2 separate regions of the Homo sapiens genome follow, and region 2 is linked to region 1. Evidence: fine-mapped expression QTL. A gene starts in region 1. The other region holds a variant in brackets. All regions are shown on one strand. Distances are between the middles of the regions.

Region 1 (4,383 bases):
TTCCTTCATTCACTTATCTATATCCTATGTCCCATGTACTATATTATACACTAGACAGTAAGGATAGAAAGATGGATAAGAAACAATCCCTGTCTAAAGATGTCCACAGTATACTAGGGTAGACAAAGATGTGTAATCAGTTTGATTGAGAATCTCACCTCAAGAGGCATAAGCTTGAAAGTCTCATCATTTCTACACTTGGTATTTTGTCAGATTTCATTGCTTCAAAGTATCAGCCTCCTTAGTTATTAAAACTTTCATTCTAGGTATTAAGATTAGGTCCTACTGATTTAAAATATTAGTCTCATATTTATTTCAAAAACTTCCTCCATGCCTTCCAGAGCAGACTAGACCCGTAGTTCCAACTTTCTTTATACACACCCCTTTTTTTCCATGTGCCTGCTCTTCCGATGGTGGGGTCAGGAGGTTTAAGAAGGAAAACAGGCAATGCCTTAAATGTCTGACTGCCGCCATGTTGCTATCTGCTTTCTGTAGGTCATTGTTAGAATATATGGGGTTCCTAACAGCCCCACTGATAACTCAGTATCAAGCAGTCCTCTATGCTTTGATAGCCCTTTGCAAGACTTCTGCATCTGTCAGCTGACTTCCATTTGGCAGTGGTGAAACACATTCTTCTGATACATAGAAATCCCTTGTCCCATGTTATGTTCCATGGCAAGTGTGTGGGCCTCAATCTCCTGTGCTCTCTGTGATCCCAGCTCTGGGGCCTGTAGATTCCGACAGGATCCATAGTCCAGATATCACCGGATTTCTCTGTAGTCCCTACCAACTCTCCCCAGTCCTCCAAAATTCCTGGAAATTCATAGCGTAAGGGGAGTCAGCAAGCTTTGTGGCAAAGGAAACATCCAGATGGGGACTGGAGATATCAGCCTCCTCTTGAAGACACCCCAAAACTTTACTAGTATCATGTAATAGGTACTAATGTCCTGAACAGAACATGAAAGACACTAACCATTAATGAAACAAATGGACAATTTGGATAAATTCATAATTTATTTACTTATTTTTCTTTCTTTTTGAGACAGGGTCTTATTCTGTCTCCCAGCTGGGCTGGAGTGCAGTGGGGTGATCACTGCAGCCTCAACTTTCAGGGCTCAGGTGATTTTCCCTCCAAGACTCCTAGGCTCAAGTGATTTTCCCTCCCAGTCTCCTGAGTAGCTGGGTCTACAGGTGTGCACCATACCCCGCTAATTTTTGTATTTTATTTATTTATTTATTTTTTGAGACAGAGTCTTGCTCTGTTGCCCAGGCTAGAATGCAGTGGCGCGATCTCGGCTCACTGCAAGCTCCGCCTCCCGGGTTCACGCCATTCTCTTGCCTCAGCCTCCAGAGTAGCTGGGTCTACAGGCGCCCGCCACGATGCCCGGCTAATTTTTTTAATTGTTGGTAGAGACGGGGTTTCACCGTGTTAGCCGGGATGGTCTCAATCTCTTGACCTCGTGATCCGCCTGCCTGCGCCTCCCAAAGTGCTGGGATTACAGGCGTGAGCCACTGCGCCCGGCCTAATCTTTGTATTTTTTTAGAGACAAAGTTTCACCATGCCGCCCAGGCTGGTCTCTAACTGTATTTTAAAAATACAGGCGGCCGGGCGCAGTGGCTCACGCTTGTAATCCCGGAACTTTAGGAGGCTGAGGCGGGCCGATCATGAGGTCAGCAGATCGAGACCATCTGGCTAACACGGTGAAACCCTGTCTCTACTAAAAATACAAAAAAAATTAGCCAGGCGTGGTGGCGGGCGCCTGTAGTCCCAGCCACTTGGGAGGCTGAGGCAGGAGAATGGCGTGAACGTGGGAGGCAGAGCTTGCAGTGAACCGAGATCGCGCCACTGTACTCCAGCCTGGCCGACAGAGCGAGACTCCGTCTTAAAATAAAAAATAAAAAAATAAGAAATACAGGCAGGGCGCGTGGGCTCATGCTTGTAATCCCAGCACTTTGGGAGGCTGAGGCGGACAGGCTGCTTGAGCTCAAGAGTTCCAGACTAGCATCGGCAAAGCAGGGAGACCCCATCTTTACAAAAAAAGTAGCCTGGCATGGTGTTGTGAGCCCATAGTCCCAGCTAAGTAGGGCAGAGGTAGGAGAATCACTTGAGCCCAGGAGTTCCAGGCTGCAGTGAGCCGTGGTCGTGCCACTGGACTCCAGCCTGGGTGAAAGAGCAAGACCCTGTCTCAAAAAGAGAAAGGAAAAAATTTAACATCAAGAACTTCCTTTCATCAAGACACCACTGAGAGAATACGACAACCCACAGAGTAGGAAAAGAGATTTGTAATACACATCTGTAACAATGGACTTCCTCCTAGAATAGAGAGGATAAAAAGTAGCAACACTTCCGCTTGCACCCGGACGGAACTTCCTGTCACGGAAAAGAACATCCTGTCACGGAGAAGAACATCCTGCAGAATTTCCTGTCACGAGGAACATTCCGCAGGAGGAAATGGAGGCTGAAAGGCTGCGACTCCTCGAGGAAGAGGCCAAGCTGAAAAAGGTAGCCAGAATGGGATTTAATGCATCTTCCATGCTCCGAAAAAGCCAGCTAGGTTTCCTCAACGTCACCAGTTACTCCCGTTTAGCCAACGAGCTGCGTGTGAGCTGCATGGAGCGGAAAAAGGTCCAAATTCGGAGCTTGGATCCCTCCTCTTTGGCGAGCGACCGATTTAACTTCATTCTGGCGAGTACCAACAGCGACCAGCTCTTCGTAGTGAACCAGGTCGAAGTCGAAGGCTCCAAGTACGGCATCATCAGCCTGCGAACTCTGAAGATCCCTTCGTTCCACGTGTACGTGCTCAGAAACCTCTACGTCCCCAACCGGAAGGTGAAGTCCCTGTGCTGGGCCTCGCTGAACCAGTTGGACTCTCACGTTCTGCTGTGCTTCGAGGGAATCACAGATGCTCCAAGCTGTGCAGTGCTGCTCCCAGCGTCGCGGTTCTTAAGTGTTCACACAAGAGTTAACCAGCCTGGCATGCTCTGCAGTTTCCAGATCCCAGAGGCCTGGTCCTGTGCGTGGTCCCTCAACACCCGGGCATATCACTGCTTTAGTGCAGGCTTGTCTCAGCAGGTCCTGTTGACCAGCGTGGCGACGGGACACCAGCAGTCATTTGATACCAGCAGTGATGTCTTGGCCCAGCAGTTTGCTAGTACGGCTCCTTTGCTGTTTAATGGCTGTCGCTCCGGGGAGATCTTTGCCATTGATCTGCGTTGTAGAAATCGAGGCAAGGGGTGGAGGGCCACTCGCCTGTTCCATGACTCAGCAGTGACCTCTGTGCAAATCCTCCAAGAAGAGCAATGCCTGATGGCATCAGACATGACTGGAAAGATCAAGCTGTGGGATCTGAGGGCCACTAAATGTGTAAGGCAGTACGAAGGTCACGTGAATGAGTCCGCCTATCTGCCCCTGCATGTGCACGAGGAAGAGGGAATCGTGGTGGCAGTGGGCCAGGACTGCTACACGAGAATCTGGAGCCTCCATGATGCCCACCTGCTCAGAACCATCCCTTCCCCGTACTCTGCCTCCGAGGACGACATTCCCAGCGTGGCCTTCGCTTCTCGGCTCGGGGGCATCCGGGGAGCAGCACCAGGGCTGCTCATGGCTGTCCGGCAGGACCTTTATTGTTTCCCCTTCAGCTAATTCTGCAGGTGGCAGCGCGGCCGAATGTGGATTTGACTTAAGGAAGTTAAGAGTATCTTATTACCGTTTCTGTGAGAGCATTTTAAGAGACGTGTTGTATATAGATCGCATCCATCCGGCTGCCAGGGGTAAGGTGTTAAGAGTTTTATGTGGAGACGTTCTTGTAAAGTTATTTCAGTTAAACTGTGGACTTAACTTGAAAGTCCTTTTCATAAAAGGTACCTGTTTCCTCTTGTTGAATGCCTTAGAACAGTTAACCACCTCCCCAACCCTTTTTTTTTTTAAATAATTAAGACTTTTCTAAGGACTGAAGATTGGCAAAAACTAAAATAAATTAAAGCAGCTTCTTTCACTAGTAGCCCTTTAGAGAAGCATAATGATGGTACTGGTAAGACTGTTTGACTAATCATACAGGGTCCCAGGCATCTGCGCTTGAGGAAGCCAGTGGGAGTGGAGACAAGGGAGAGGTAATTTCTCAGAGTCTCTACAGAAATATTTAAGGCTGGAGTTTGGAATCATTAAATTTGGCCTTCTCAAACTCAATAGCAGATCTCTTAAGGTTCTCCTTTTATTGTTATCATCCATAGGCATTGGAAGGAAAGATGGATCTTTTTAAATACTAGAAGTTTTAAACAGTCCTTGATGTGCTTTTGTTGAGGTACCTTTCAGAATGTAAGGTACAGCAGCTCCGGTTTCTATTATGGTGACTTGAAGTTCAGATTCAAGGAATTGGCTTTGAC
Region 2 (4,383 bases), 100 kb before region 1:
ATGAGAACAATTGTCTCCCCGCCTGGCATAGCCCTCCGCCGCTCCTCCGGGTTCGCTGCCCCTCTCATTTCTCTAGCCCTGCTTGTTTCCCAACCTTGGCGATGGGGATCGGGTGGGAGGTCAGCTCCAGATCCAGTGGCCCTGAGCTCAGAGAGCAGCGAAGTCAGGGTGCCCCGGGAGGAGATCAAAGCCTCGGCCCCCACTGCCCTCCGCTCTGCCTCTGCCAGCGACTAACTTACCTCTTTTTCCACCTGCCCAGCGAATCCAGCTGCCCGGCCTTCCCCTCCCATCCAAGAACCCCCGGCTCCTGCCTCTAGAATTTTCCACCAGCGCTGGGGGCTGGTAAAGATTCTGCCCCCCTCTGACAATTTAATAGTCCCAAGTCATCATCTGCGTGACACTGGCCATCCATCTTCTCCCAGGGGAGGACAAAGCGGGGCCTCCCGGACTCCAGGCCTCTCCCTCCCCAGCTCTTTCTATTTTGGGACAGCCTCACCACAATGGCGTCCTTATAAACCATAATGGCGATGTTTATGAAGGCCGCAATACCAGTGTATGAAGACAATTTTATGCCTAATTAGAAAATGATGTAACTCGAGAGAAGACAAAGGAAAGCTGTCCCCCTCCCGTTTCTCTCTCTTCAATCACACCCCCTCCCCACATTTCCTAGGGCCGGACCCCTTGTGAGTGCTTAAGGCTGAAGGACTCTGTTTTGACAGTAGCTGGGCTCCCCGCGCCCCGCTGGCCCTGGCCGCGCGACAGGAGGCTGCAGGCACGTCCTGCGGCTCCGGGGCGAAGGCTAGGGAAGGGGATAGAGGGAGGTCGCTGCGGGGAGGGGGACAGAGGCAGGCACAGAGTCCTAAAGAGATTTGAGACTCGCGCTCCTGCACTTTCTATCCCACGCGCCCCCATCCGAGGGGACCTCACCCCTGGGAAGACTCCAATAAATGCAACCCGGCGCCACTCGATTCCGGGATAATTTTTAATATATATGCAATAAATGTTCACTTTGTTAGATTGAATGACAGACAATAATATCGGCAAATCTTCATATCCATCCATTACCAGCAAATGAGCCGCACAAAGGACAGATTTGCTTTTGATTAATTTATTTGCAGACTCGGGTTGATAAAGCAATAACTATTTGGTTAAACTTGACATTTGGTCTTCAGGGGGTTATCAGACAAATCTCTGTCGCCCAGAAGAGATAATAAAGCTGTTTAAAGGGGATTAATTATTAATTGGCTGCAATTAATTTCCCCCCTTTTCTCGGCTGCTGCCACAATTCGCATCCCTCACCCACAAACAAAAGACAGAAGTTTGCCCTCCTCCCCACCCACTGACCTGGGGCGACGAGGGGATCCCCAAAGCCCTGAGTGAAGACGTGATCTCTTGCACCCCGGTTATTCCAGTGCAGACTATTTTAATGAACCCTTGGCAAAACCTGTCCATGTCTGTCCCCGGCAGCTTTTCTGGAGTCGAGGGTGCGATTAAGCATCAATCTGAGGGTCGTGGATTCGGAGCTGAATTTCTAGTCTCAATATTTTTGGTTGTAAGGACATCAGCTCACACCCGTTGTTATGTCTAAATCCACACTCCCCAACTTGTTTTCTTGGGGCAGCAGTTTGGGGGCTGAGCTGGAACCTGGGTGTGAGAGTATCACAAGCCCGCCCTACTGATCACGCGGAGAGGATTCCTTCTTCCCCTCTTTACTCCGCGCCCTGCCGCGGAAACCCTTCCCGTGGCCTCGAACTGGTCCCCGACGACTGCGGGGTACGCGGG[G/T]CCCAAAGCCAGACTCTACTCCCGCGCAGATGCGGGAAGACTCCAGGCTGTGCTTGAGCTGTTTTACTGGGCCTGGCCGAGGAATAAGCGAGCCTCAGCATGCTTGGGCCAGAGCGAGAAGCATCTTCATGACCCTGGGGTGCCCCTTCCTTTACTAATAACCTGTCAAGACTTTAAAGAACACATACTGAGACTAAAGCCCACCAAGCCTGCCTGGCCACAGCGCAGGCTGCCTCGGCCTCTCCGACATCCACCCGCTTCCAGGGACCTGTACGCTTTCCTTGGGTGCGAACTCGAGTCCAGGACCGGCAGGGTTCTCGCCTTAATCTGTACCACCGTCCCGTAAATCTGTCGCTCAGCCCATAGCCGGCCTTTGATCTCCAAGCGGAGCAGCTGGACAGGTGTCGAACTGCACTTCCCTTCCCGCTCTGAGCCACCGAACAAACTTGGCCATGCCCGGAAAGGATTCCCGTGCTCAGGGAACCTGGGGCACAGGAGAGGGTGGATAGGCGCGAATAAGCGGGCTCCAAAAAGTGGTGTGGCTTGGCAATCCTATTCGTTCTTGGCGGGCAGAAAATTCAGTGCGAATAATCTCCAAATACCCTGGTTGGAGAAAAGATAACTTGTAGAAAGAATGTGACGGGGATGGCCAGGTCAGATAACAAGCTCGGGTGTTAGTGAGCGTAATCTGACCGCAGAAAAGCTGATGGGAAACCTGGGCTTCGCGCCGCGTCCCGCTTTTCCTACTTTCCCATTCCATTCCCATCTCCCTTCCCTTTCCTTCCCTTCTCTACCTTATCCTCCATTCCCTTCCCTTCCCTTCCTAGGCATTTAAATAAGAACAAAGATTACACCCACAAAAAGAACCTTGCCTAGGAGCGCGTGGAAACAGCAAGGGCGCCCGAGCGGGAGAGGTTCCCTCGGTGAGGGGGTCCGCGCAGCGGCGGACCCCGCACCCCGGCCCCCAACGGCGCCTAGGAAGTTGTCACTCCTCTCATTTAAAGCCTCAGAAAAATGCATTCATGAGATTGTTTCTTTATTTTTCCTTTCTGCCCCTCTCCGCATTCTTTGCCTATTTGCTTTACGGCTTTTCAGCCTTGTTGAGGCCAAGAAAAGAAACCAGGTTCTTTTCTCTTGCGATTGGATCCGTATTCCCAGTTAGGGCGCCTTTTGATGTCCCCATTTAGCGCCTTTGACTGGTCAGCTGAATGGGGCCGCCTGCTTTTGTCCTTTCCCACAAGTCCCTTCAGAAAGATCCCTTTAAACGCCCGGTACCCGCTGATGGATCCGTTTTCAAACGGCGCGGGGACGGCAGTGCCGGAGGCCGCGTCTCCTTAGTAATCGCGCGGGCAGGGCTCGGCAAGGGGTCGCTGCAAGGGTCGCGCTCACCCGCCCCGGGTTTGGGCGCTGGGGGTGGGGAAGGGAGAGAAGGTTCGAACAGTTTTGTCTCTCCCGCGCCCCGGCTCCCCCAGGGTGCTGCGCCTCCAGCCGCCCCGAGGCGCTTCCCCCGGCGTCCGCGCGCTCCTCTCCGCAGGGGTCTCGCGCCCACGGTGCCGCAGCCGCGCGGCTCAGCCGCCCTCCGCACCCGCGCCTTTCCAGCGCCCGGGTTCCCAAACCATCGCTAAAGGCGGACGGGGGGCGCCAGGAGTAACGGCTGCTCCCCGGAGACCCCACCGAGCCCAGCGCCCGCCCCCGCCCCCTGGGCGCCCTGCCCCATTTTCTCCCTTTCCCAACTATCCCAGACCCCCAGAAGGGCCAGAATTTTCCAGAACTGTCCCACTCCACCCGCGCCCAGGGCTTCTGCACATTGCCCTTGGCAGGACGCGAGCCGGTCGAGGGGCATTTAGGGGTGGCCCTGCACGGCCCTCACTGCTGTCCCTTCTTCTCCCTCCGTTCTCCGGGCCAGGGTCCTCGGAGACCCCGTTCCGCGGCAAGTACCCCTCCCCCACCCCCGGAGGCGGGTGCAGTGCAGGGCGGGGGCGGCGGTCGCAGCGGCTCAGAAGCCGACCCTCCTTGAACCCGAAGCTGCCCTGGCCCGAGTATCCGCACTGGCCTGGGCCCGAGCGAGGCTGCAACCCTGTGAAACCCCCTGCAAGGCGGAAGCCTCCAAACCCAAACGACCCCGAGGGCGATTCCGCCAGAAATCCAACGCGGGCCCAAATAAAGTCCGAGGCCTTTTTGTCGGAAGCCCGGGAGGTGCCCGGCCAAGGTGTCCCCTGCCCGGCCAAGGTGGGGGCTCGAACCCTGAGCGGCCGCGCCGGCTACTTACGTTGAAGGTGCGCGCATTCCAGACGGCTCTGACCTGCCTCCGCCGGTCTCGATTATTTTATACATTTCTCGGCGATACACTTATAAACAAGTGGAAATTTTGCATCCTACTGCACCATTTTATACATGATGAGCCGTCAGTAATAGGATTATTAAACAAAAACCGTCTCAGGCGCTGGCGTTAACCTTTTTTAAAATGGCTAATTAGGTTTTGGACAGAAAAATTAGATTTAACATTGCTTACATTGCCTACATTTTCAGTTGATGCTCCGGTAATTTCGGATAGGCCGGGCTGCCGCCAAACAAAGAGATAATAAAAAATTAACTATTTTA

Evidence for each region. PIP is the estimated chance that this variant, and not a neighbour inherited with it, causes the effect.
Region 2: its variant is the best candidate, but not a certain one, in a credible set for the expression of DCAF4L1 in whole blood (INTERVAL, PIP 0.80).

What each region holds. Positions count from the first base shown.
Region 1 is chr4:41,979,341-41,983,723 of GRCh38, forward strand. DCAF4L1 (DDB1 and CUL4 associated factor 4 like 1) reads left to right here and starts at 2,416. Exons shown (of 1, transcript NM_001029955.4): 1 at 2,416-4,383. The coding sequence starts at 2,453. The coding sequence ends at 3,643. RefSeq lists enhancers at 2,147-3,346, 2,906-3,678.
Region 2 is chr4:41,878,429-41,882,811 of GRCh38, forward strand. LINC00682 (long intergenic non-protein coding RNA 682) reads right to left here and starts at 4,183. Exons shown (of 2, transcript NR_104143.1): 1 at 4,052-4,183; 2 at 1,093-2,385. RefSeq lists enhancers at 1,381-2,133, 2,886-3,637. The variant G/T (reference allele first, on the strand shown) is at 1,783.